Linked DNA regions of Homo sapiens. The protein of the gene in region 1 purifies or fractionates together with the protein of each later gene. This does not show direct contact. Each region holds a gene or a part of one and is shown in the gene's direction. Other genes may lie near its edges.

What was found. Proteins that work in one complex are often made in the same cells at the same time.
Region 2: the proteins of MYO1A (region 1) and MAP3K3 purify together in Homo sapiens (tandem affinity purification; one large-scale study listed by IntAct). This does not show direct contact.

What each region holds. Positions count from the first base shown.
Region 1 is NC_000012.12:57,032,191-57,036,955, reverse strand, and holds part of MYO1A (unconventional myosin-Ia), read left to right. Parts: coding exon 1-14; intron 15-115; coding exon 116-184; intron 185-574; coding exon 575-649; intron 650-4,765. UniProt on the Homo sapiens protein: Involved in directing the movement of organelles along actin filaments.
Region 2 is NC_000017.11:63,634,992-63,639,756, forward strand, and holds part of MAP3K3 (mitogen-activated protein kinase kinase kinase 3), read left to right. Parts: intron 1-4,765. UniProt on the Homo sapiens protein: Component of a protein kinase signal transduction cascade. Mediates activation of the NF-kappa-B, AP1 and DDIT3 transcriptional regulators.

The sequences.
Region 1 (4,765 bases):
TTCGGGGAAACATGGTACGGTCATCCCCAAAGTCCCACTCTGTTCACTCTAATAGGGAAGATGGAAGGTGGCTCAGGAGGTGCCATTTTTCTAACAACTCCTATGTTTTCTACAGCAAAAGAAATGCTATGGGAAGATAAAGGCATCCGTGTTATTGATCCAGGCTTTTGTGAGAGGGTGGAAGGTAATGGAGAGTGGAAGAGAGGTTTCCTCACATTGTTTCTCCTGGATTGTGTCACCTGCTGGCTAGAGCAGCAGAGAGCTAGTCCTGCCTGCACCCAGGCCGCACCTCTGTGTATCAGCCGGTCCATGTGTGGGTGGGTGTCTGGGAGTGAGAGGCCTGTAGGGGAGACCTGTAGAGGTGTCTGGGTGGGTAGATGCCTAACTTGGCAGCAGAACTTTGCCTTCTGCTCTAAGTGTCCTCACTGCCAACTTGTCTGATTTTACTTCCAACTTCCAGCTACAGTCTCAGCTCTTTATCTTACTCAGGTCTTTGCGTGGTTGAAAAATAGTACAACCTCTTCTAGAATCTGCCTATCTTCACTTTGGCTCCTTTCTTGTACTTTTCTGCCAGGCCCGAAAGAATTATCGCAAATATTTCCGGTCAGAGGCTGCCCTCACCTTGGCAGATTTCATCTACAAGAGCATGGTAAGTGGTAGGGGTTAGGGTGGATGTTAGGGATGGAGCAGGGAGGCACAGGTTTGGGAGAGGGGTTTGAGAAGAGGCAACCCAAAGCTTTCCCCCAAGAGTTTCCTCAGTCTGCATGTACTTAAGTCCTAGGAGAAGAGGGCAGCTACCTGCAGGGACCAGGCCCCAGTGCCTTGGACTCGGGGGCAGAATCAGATAGCATTTTGGCATGAGTGGACAATCCAGGCAACCTTGTGGCAGGAAGGGGTCTCAGCACACCCACCATCTGGTCTATGGTCAAATAGCCTTGTGAAGATCCTGGGGCTGGATGTTTAACAACTGTTGAAGAGGCTAAGCCTCATTGAAGAGTAGAGTGATCCACACATTAACTAGCTCAACCTCCCAAGATCCATTTTAGGGTTGGGGTGAGAGTAGGCGAATTGTATCTTCCTTCTACTTCCTCTGAAACTATTGTCAGCAAGTCAGAAAGTAAATCTCAGGAAGGACCTATCCTAATTCTGGAGGACGTGGGTCAGGCTGGATGGGAAGACCCACCTGGAAGGCCTACATATTCAAACTTACAGACAGCTCCCAGGGGGAGAAAAACAGGGACAGAGAAGAGTAACTTCTGGAGACTTCAGTCAGATAGCAATAGTGCTTCTGAGAAGTGTCAGGGAGGAAACCAGGGAGGGAGAAGCACTTCCAATGAAACCTTGGGAAAGGCCAGAGAGAAGGAGGAAGAGCATGGGATCTTGGACAGAGGCTGGAGCAAATTGGTAATTGACCTCCGCTGATTGGGTTTTTGACCATAGTTAGGACCCTGACTGTGCTCATTCAGACATAAGACATGTTTGCTTGCAGCCCCTCTTTGTTGTTTGAGAGTCTGGATCCCTCAGCTCAAGAGAGGAATGGGGGCTCTGAAGCTCTGGACCTCTTTTTTGCCTTCCTGAGCCTTCATTTGCTCGTCCTCTTCCCCTTCCCAGGGAAGTTCCATCTTCCAGGTCTCTTCAGTTGCCTGATCACCTCTTGTGCTGGTGCCAGAGTGTCTGCCTTCCCACCATACATGCTTCTTGCTACACACCTGAGACCTGTAATCTGATTTTGCTGTTATCTCCTGACTGCCCTTCTTCTTCCTTTTCTTTCATCTGTGTATTGTCAGGCAGCTACTAATTGTCAACCCAGAAGCTGCTGGGTTTAGACCAGGGTCTCAATAAATCACACCCCCACAGAAGCCTGCGGGCACTGGGCACTGATTCCCCCAGTGTTTCTGAGTATTCCAGTTTGCCACTGCCTTGACTGTAACTAATGCTAGTATCCATTCTCATTTTTTTAATTTTTATTTATTTATTTATTTATTTTTTGAGACAGAGTTTCACTCTTGTCACCCAGGCTGGAGTACAATGGCGCGATCTCAGCTCACTGCAACCTCCGCCTCCCAGGTTCAAGTGATTATCCTGCCTCAGCCTCCTGAGCTGGGATTACAGGCATGCGCCACCATGCCCAGCTAATTTTTGTATTTTTAGTAGAGACAGAGTTTCACCATGTTGGCCAGGCTGGTCTTGAACTCCTGACCTCAAGTGACCCGCCCATCTCGGCCTCCCAAAGTGCTAGGATTACAGGTGTGAGCCACTGCGCCCAGCCTATTTCTTTTTTGAGATGGAATCTTGCTCTCTCGCCCAGGCTGGAATGCAGCAAGCATGATCTCGGCTCACTGCAACCTCCATCTCCCGGGCTCAAGCCATCCTTCAGCCTCGGCCTTCCCAGTAGCTGAGACCACAGGCACATGCCACCACGCCTGGCTAATTTTTTATATTTTTGGTAAAGATGTGGTTTCACCATGTTGCCCAGGCTGGTCTCAAACTCCTGAGCTCAAGTGATTCACTCGCCTTGGCCTCCCAAAGTGCTAGGATTACAGGTGTGAGCCACTGCACCCGGCCTTACCCATTATCTTTTGAACATCTACTATGCATTAAGCTCTTTACATGCATTAACTCTAATACTTTCAATAACCCTGTGAGGTAGGCTCTTTTCTTTCTCCCATTTTGTAGTTAAAAAGCCAAGGCTCAGAGAGGTTAAATAACTTGCCGGGGGTTCCACAGCTGTAAGTGGTAAAGCTGGGTTACAAACTATTTGACTCTAGAGCTTTTAACCACTGCCTAAGACTGCCCCTCATCAATAGAGGCTTGGGCAACCCATGGCCCTAGGCAGACCTGGGGGCAGGAGGGCTGCATAGGAAAGGGCAGAACTTTCTAGTTCTAGAACAAACAATAAAAAGAAGAAAGCCTTCAGAGGCTCCACATTAATTGGAACAAAGGGGATTATGACAGATGCTTAGGCATGTTTGTTGAATTATTAATAAATAAAATCAGACTAGGGACTGGGGACTCCAGTCTTGGAGGCCTTCACAGGCCCAGATCCCAAACCCACCAAACCCACTAGACCTGCAGTGGAAGCTACAATGAGCTTGGATAGTTCCTGCAGTTAACAGCAATATACTATGTATTCTGCCTCTTTCTATTTAAATTTTTTAACCTGATATCTTAGTAAAACTTTTTCATAAAAATTCCAGACATTTGGAAGTGCCAAAAATCAAGTCATTTTTTATATCTTCAGTAATTCTGTGCCATAAACAAACAGGTTGCTAGGTGCTCTATGGGATGTAAAACCTTGGCCAGGCAAGGTGACTCACTCCTGTAATCCTAGCACTTTGGGAGGCTGAGGCGGGAATATTGCTTGAGCCCAGGAATTTGTGACCAGTCTGGGCAACATAGTGAGACCTAGACTCTACAAAAAAAATTTAAAAATTAGGTGGGTGTGGTGGCTCATACCTGTAGTCCCAGCTACTTGGAAGGCTGAGGTGGGAGGATCGCTTGAGCCCAGGAGGCGGGCAAGGCTGCAGTGAGCTGTGATGGTGGCACTGCACTCCAGCCTGGGCGACAGAGCAAAACCCTGTCTCAAAAAAAGAGGCAAAAACAAAAACTTAAGAATCCTTGTTCTAGATTGGGGCAGACTAAAGAGTCAGTTGCCATGGATGAAGCTTGATTGGATCCTGGAAAAGGAAAAATAAAGCTTCAAAGGACATGTTTAGAAGTTTATAAAGGACATGTAGAGAAATCTGAGAGTGGATCGCTGTTGGATTAGTGATGTTGATTTTCTTAGGTGTGGTGATGGAGTTATGATTGTGTAAGAGAATGTTCCAGTTCTTGGGAGAGGCATGCTGACATTTTAGGGTAAAATGTCATGATATCTATAACCTACTTTAGGATGGTAGGGTAGCAAGGATTTGTGTAAATGTGTATATGCATGTATTTATATGCACACATATGTGTGTGTGTCAGAGCACACAGATAGTGCAAGGTGTTAACATTATCAGTTGGTGCATTTAGATGAGGAACATACAGTATACAGATGTTAATTGTATCTTTTTTCAACTTTTCTGTAAGTTAAAAAAACTTTCAAAATAATAAGCTATATTGAATTTTTAAAACATCATATTATGCTATTCTTCTGTATAAATTCTCCAATGGTGTTCCATTTCACTCCTTACCACAGCCTACAAGGCCCATCATGATCTGCCCCGACCTACTCTCTGATCCTCTCTCTTCCTGCTCAAGTGATTCTGGCCACCCTTTTTTTTTCTTCTTTTTTAGACAGTCTTGCTCTGTCACCCAAGCTGGAGTGCAGTGGTGCGATCTTGGCTCACTGCAACCTCCACCTCCCGGGTTCAAGCGATTCTCCTGTCTCAACCTCTAGAGTAGCTGGGATTACAGGCATGCGCCACCATGCCCAGCTAATTTTTGCTCACCCTGGCTTTTTAATGTCTCTGGAATATGCTGCCACTCATTCCTGCCTCAGGGTCTACTTCTTTGCATCACAGCAGATGCCATTATCTGACATCACACTATATATTTATTTGCTTGTGTAGTTGGTCCCCTTCTCCACCCTACAGTAGAATGTAAGTCCAGTGAAAATGAAGACTTTGTTCACTGTTATGTCCCAGTACCTAGAACAGTTCCAGGCACTAAGTAGACACTCAATAAATGTTGACTAGTGAAAAAAAATGTGAGACCTGGGATCCTGCCTTATAAGGACTCAGTGTCTAGAAAAGGGAGCTGTTTTCCATGCAAATAACTGTAG
Region 2 (4,765 bases), on another chromosome or scaffold:
CAGTGCTGTCCAATAAACCTTCTGTGATGACAGAAATGTTTTATATCTCTGCTGTCCAATGTGGTTTTGTAGCCACTAGCTACATGTGGCTGTTGAGCAACTAAGGAACTAAATTTTAAATTTTATATCATTTTAATTAATTTAGACAGCCACATGTGGCTAGTGGCTATTGTATTGGACAGCATGACTTTATGCACTATGTAAGGGACTGTTGATTTATTGGGCAAGAAATTATGTATATGCTTGGAGATGTGTAGATATTCATTGGTATGTTCATTCCTTACACACGTCATGAGTTTCTGTACATTGTGATAAGCTAATAATGGGAATCCTACCTAAGATTTCTGTTTTAGGAAGAATGTGAAGATGTGGAACTAGAACAGCTGTTTAGAAATTGAAGCTCAAAGTTTTATGTTAATATGGGCAAAAGGGGAAATAAAATGCTAAGATAGCTTTTCCTCTTAATGAAGTCAAGGTTATAGAATGGCCTGTCCTGGGAAGTGTAGCAGATGTTTTGCTTCTGACCAAGAGGGATATTCTTCAGCAAAATTCTGAAAGCAGAAAAAGACAAAGTCTCAGCAAATGCATTTCTAGGAAAGATAGGGTAAGAGGTAGTGCGGGGAAGATGTTGGGGAGAGGTATTTATAGCCTAGTATAATGAAAGGAGCCTGGTGATATTAATAATCATTTAACATCGGATTTTATAATTCACAGAGTTACACATTTATTATTATTATTGTAGTTTTTGTTAGCCTAGGCCTGAGATAGAATGAAACAGTTTTCTTCATTACCAGTTCTTCTGCCAGAAAGTCCATGCTTAGGAAGAGAGAGGAATGAAAGATCAAAACCTAATTTAAATGGTGAAGAGTTGCCAAATTTGGTTAAGAAATGTCTAATTGGATTACAGATTCAAATTACAGAGTCCCAGTTGAAAGAAGCTAAGCATTTTGGCTAGCTGGAAAGGTTGTTTATTCAAGGGTGGAATGGGGCTGGCAGAGGCAAACAGCCTTTCACTATGAGAATGGCAGTGCTGGCTACAAGGCAGAGTCGAGACTGGCACAGCTTCATGGAGCTCAAGCTTGGCCCAGCAAGGAAAGCCAGAGGAGCTGTGGGTTCATTAACAGGATTGTTTGGGTGCCGAGGCCTGGAAGAACTGAAAAATCTAATTTAATATCTCTGCTTAGCAAGACTTGAGACATCCTTTTCCCTAAGTAAACAAGCTTGGTAAGTAATTGAAAAAGAGAATGGATTTGAGAACAAATAGGCAGCTATGGAAGTACATGGGCAGTGAGCTATTAACAATTTTCTAGGAGGTAGATTCTGTATTCTCTGTATTCTAGGAGTACAGAGAATACTGTACACTAGGAGCATTTGCTGTATTCTCCCTTTTGTATATTGGGTCTCTGGAAGCCTACAGCGTGGTTAGAGCTGACTGAATATTCTTAGATGTGTGGCACATCCTACGTGTGGCTGGGTCCTATGGATAGTTTTGCAGGCCATGATGTGCAGTGTCCCTTTAGCAGTCATTAACTCACAGTGAGTTATCAATGGGTGTTAGTTCTCTGTGGGTCTGACAACTTAGTATAGTGAAAAGAGTGCTGGCCTGTGGCTGAACATGCTGGAGAAGAGCTTGCCTGGCCACAGGGACACAGCCACGCAGATCCAGCATGTGTCTCCCATGTGCCAAGTGGAGCCCCCAGCCAAGAAGGCAGCCACACTAGCAGAGGGTGACAAGGACAATGACATTGACCTGTTTGTCAGCGACAATGAGGAGGAAGACAAGGAGGCAGCCCGGCTGTGGGAGAAGTGGCTGAGGTGGTATGTGGAGAAGAAGGCCAAGAAGACTGCGTTGGTGGTCAAGTCCTCCATCCCGCTGGACATCAAGCCTTGGGACAATGAGACCAATATAGCCCAATTGGAGGCCTGTATGCGCTTCATCCAGCTGGACGGGCTGGTCTAGGGGGGCCTCCAAGCTGGTGCCCATGGGCTACGGTATCCGGAAGCTGCAGATTCAGTGTGTGGTGGGGGACGACAAGGTGGGGACAAACTTTCTGGAAGAGGAGATTACCAAGTTTGAGAGCGTGTGTAGAGTGTCGATGTTGCAGCTTTCAACAAGGTCTGAAGCCTTAGAGTGTGTGTGCGTGCATGCGCACGTGTGCAAGTGTGTGAGGCCCTGCCACTATTAAAAACTGAGACCAACCAAAAAAAAAAAAAAAAAAAGAGTACTGGCCTAGGAGTCATAGAGTTGTTACTCATCTATTAATGTAGGATTTTATAATTTATAGAGTGCTTTCAACAACAGTTAACATCAATGCTATAAGCATGTGTATAAGGTTTACACAGCTTTTACACAAAGGTATTGAGTAGAGGCAGGAAGTAAATCCAAGCCTTCTGATTCCTAGTCACCGTAATTTTACCATGTATAAGTCATATAACCTTTCTGAAGTGAGTTTTTCCATCTGAAATATAGACTTAATACTCACTGTGTCTACCTCTTAAGATTGTTGTAAGATCATAGACAGAATGTGAAATATTTTGTACATTGTAAAACAAATGTACAAATGTGAAGTTGCAGTGGTTATGTCACTTCTTATGTTCTGGCACTGCAGGTGTGAGCTTTGGGGAAAGCTTCTAACTACAACTGTCCATAGTGTTGTGGAACTGAAAGGATTAAGGTTTTTCTCTCTTTATGGGATTATCATTACTGTTTATCTGATGATCTTTGCAAATTTCTGAAGCTAGCCTAATTTCTGAAAATCCCAGTGGAGGAAGAAATGGAATCCTTATTTCCATGGATTCCTGTTTCCCTTGAATCTTATCAAAATGGTAGGTAGATACTTGAACAGAGTCTGGGCTCTGGATCTAACCCTCCAGATGTTCATGAGTGGGTGCTTCAGAACAGAAAAGCTGCTTTCTTCATGATAGGCACAAGCAGGGCAGGGCCTTGGCTATCATTTCTAGAGGAAGAGAATTCCAGGATCTGTTCCCCCAGCAGGGTCAGTGATTGAGCAGACTGTCTTTTGCTTTCAGTGTGAAAGACCTGGCTCTTCAGGACCTCCCTTCTCTTTCAAGGGTTGTTGATAAGATGGGCTGGCCAGTTTGAAAATAAGATATAAAACAACACACAAGCCTGGCATTATATTTTGTAAGAAGATTGCTTTATAATCGTCTCTTCCACTGATCTCCTACAACTTTCCAGAGTCATGCTTAAAAATAAAATTTTAATTTTTGTTGTATTTTTTTTTCCTTTCATTCACTTACTCTCTTTGGCAAAATAAGGACTGCAATTCCAGAAATGTGGGGAGGCATCAAAGGTATGTAGCAAATGCAGGGAGAGAAATCAGTACAGAATCAGAGCGAGGATAAGAAGAATGATGGGTAACTGAGGCCTTTTTCAGGTCAAGTTAGTTCATAAACCTTTGGTTAATAAATCCTGATTTTTCTGGATTCTTGAAAGCTTTTTGGGCTACATGTTCAGCTGTTGAGTCCAGACTTTGAGAAGGTCATTTCTGCTTTAGTGTTATTGTCAGTTATTCCTGTTGCTCCTGCTGAGTCCCTGAATCTGTAGCTCAACCCGACAGCCCGCACTGTCTCTCTCCTGAGCGTGGCTGTCACTACTGCTCTCACCGGATTGCCTGTGGTGGGGAGGGGACATGAAGCTGCTTAGACCTGAATTTCTGTACTAGAACTTTTTTCTCAGTAGCTGACACCTCCATTCAGTTTAACATGTGCCTATGGTCACGCTTCTCAGACACACAAAAGAAATGTATGTCGGTCAGGAGTGGTGGCTCATGCCTGTAACCCCAACACTTTGGGAGGCCGAGGCAGGCGGATCACCTGGCCTGGCCAACGTGGTGAAACCCTGTCTGTACAAAAATACAAAAATTAGCTGGGCATGATGATAGGTGCTTGTAATCCCAGCTACTTGGGAGGCTGAGGTGGGAGAATCGCTTGTACTTGGGAGGCGGAGGTTGTAGTGAGCCGAGATCACTGCACTCCAGCCTGGGCGACAGAGCAAGACTCCATCTCAGAAAAAAAAGAAAAAAGAAAGGTATGTCATATTCCCTGTACCCCAGGAATCATGCAGTCTTACTGGGAAGTGAGGACTACATGAAAAAAAGAAAGTATGATATGACTATGCCTCACTGTGTGGTACAGAGAGTAAGTGCTATAGAAGGCCAGGAAAATGAAAGATGAGCCTGGGCCAGAGGAGCTATGGAGTCATTTCAGGTGGAAGGGCACTTGAACTAGGCTGTGAAGGAAGTATAAACAGTTAGGTAGAACGGAGGAAGGGTGGCACTCCAGGTCAGGAAACAGAATGATTAAAGGCCTAGGGGAAGAAGCAAACATGGCTTGTATCAGGAAACAAGGTGAGCTTTGATCTGGCTTTAAAGGGGGGTCCCTGTGGGGAACAAACAGTGTGAGATGATCAGGTAAACTGAATGAGCCTAAATCCCAGAGGGCTTTGAGTGATAGCAGAGAATTTAGACTTTATTCCATAGATAATGGGTATCACTGATTACCTTATGAACAAAGAAGGAACATGGTGAAAAAGGTGATTGAGATGGTTGGAACTGTAGAGGAACGCAGAGTGGGTTGGAAATGGGGAGCTGAAATGTATCCTCACTCTGATTCTGTACTGATTTCTCTCCCTGCATTTGCTACATACCTTTGATGCCTCCCCACATTTCTGGAATTGCAGTCCTTATTTTGCCAAAGAGAGTAAGTGAATGAAAGGAAAAAAAAATACAACAAAAATTAAAAT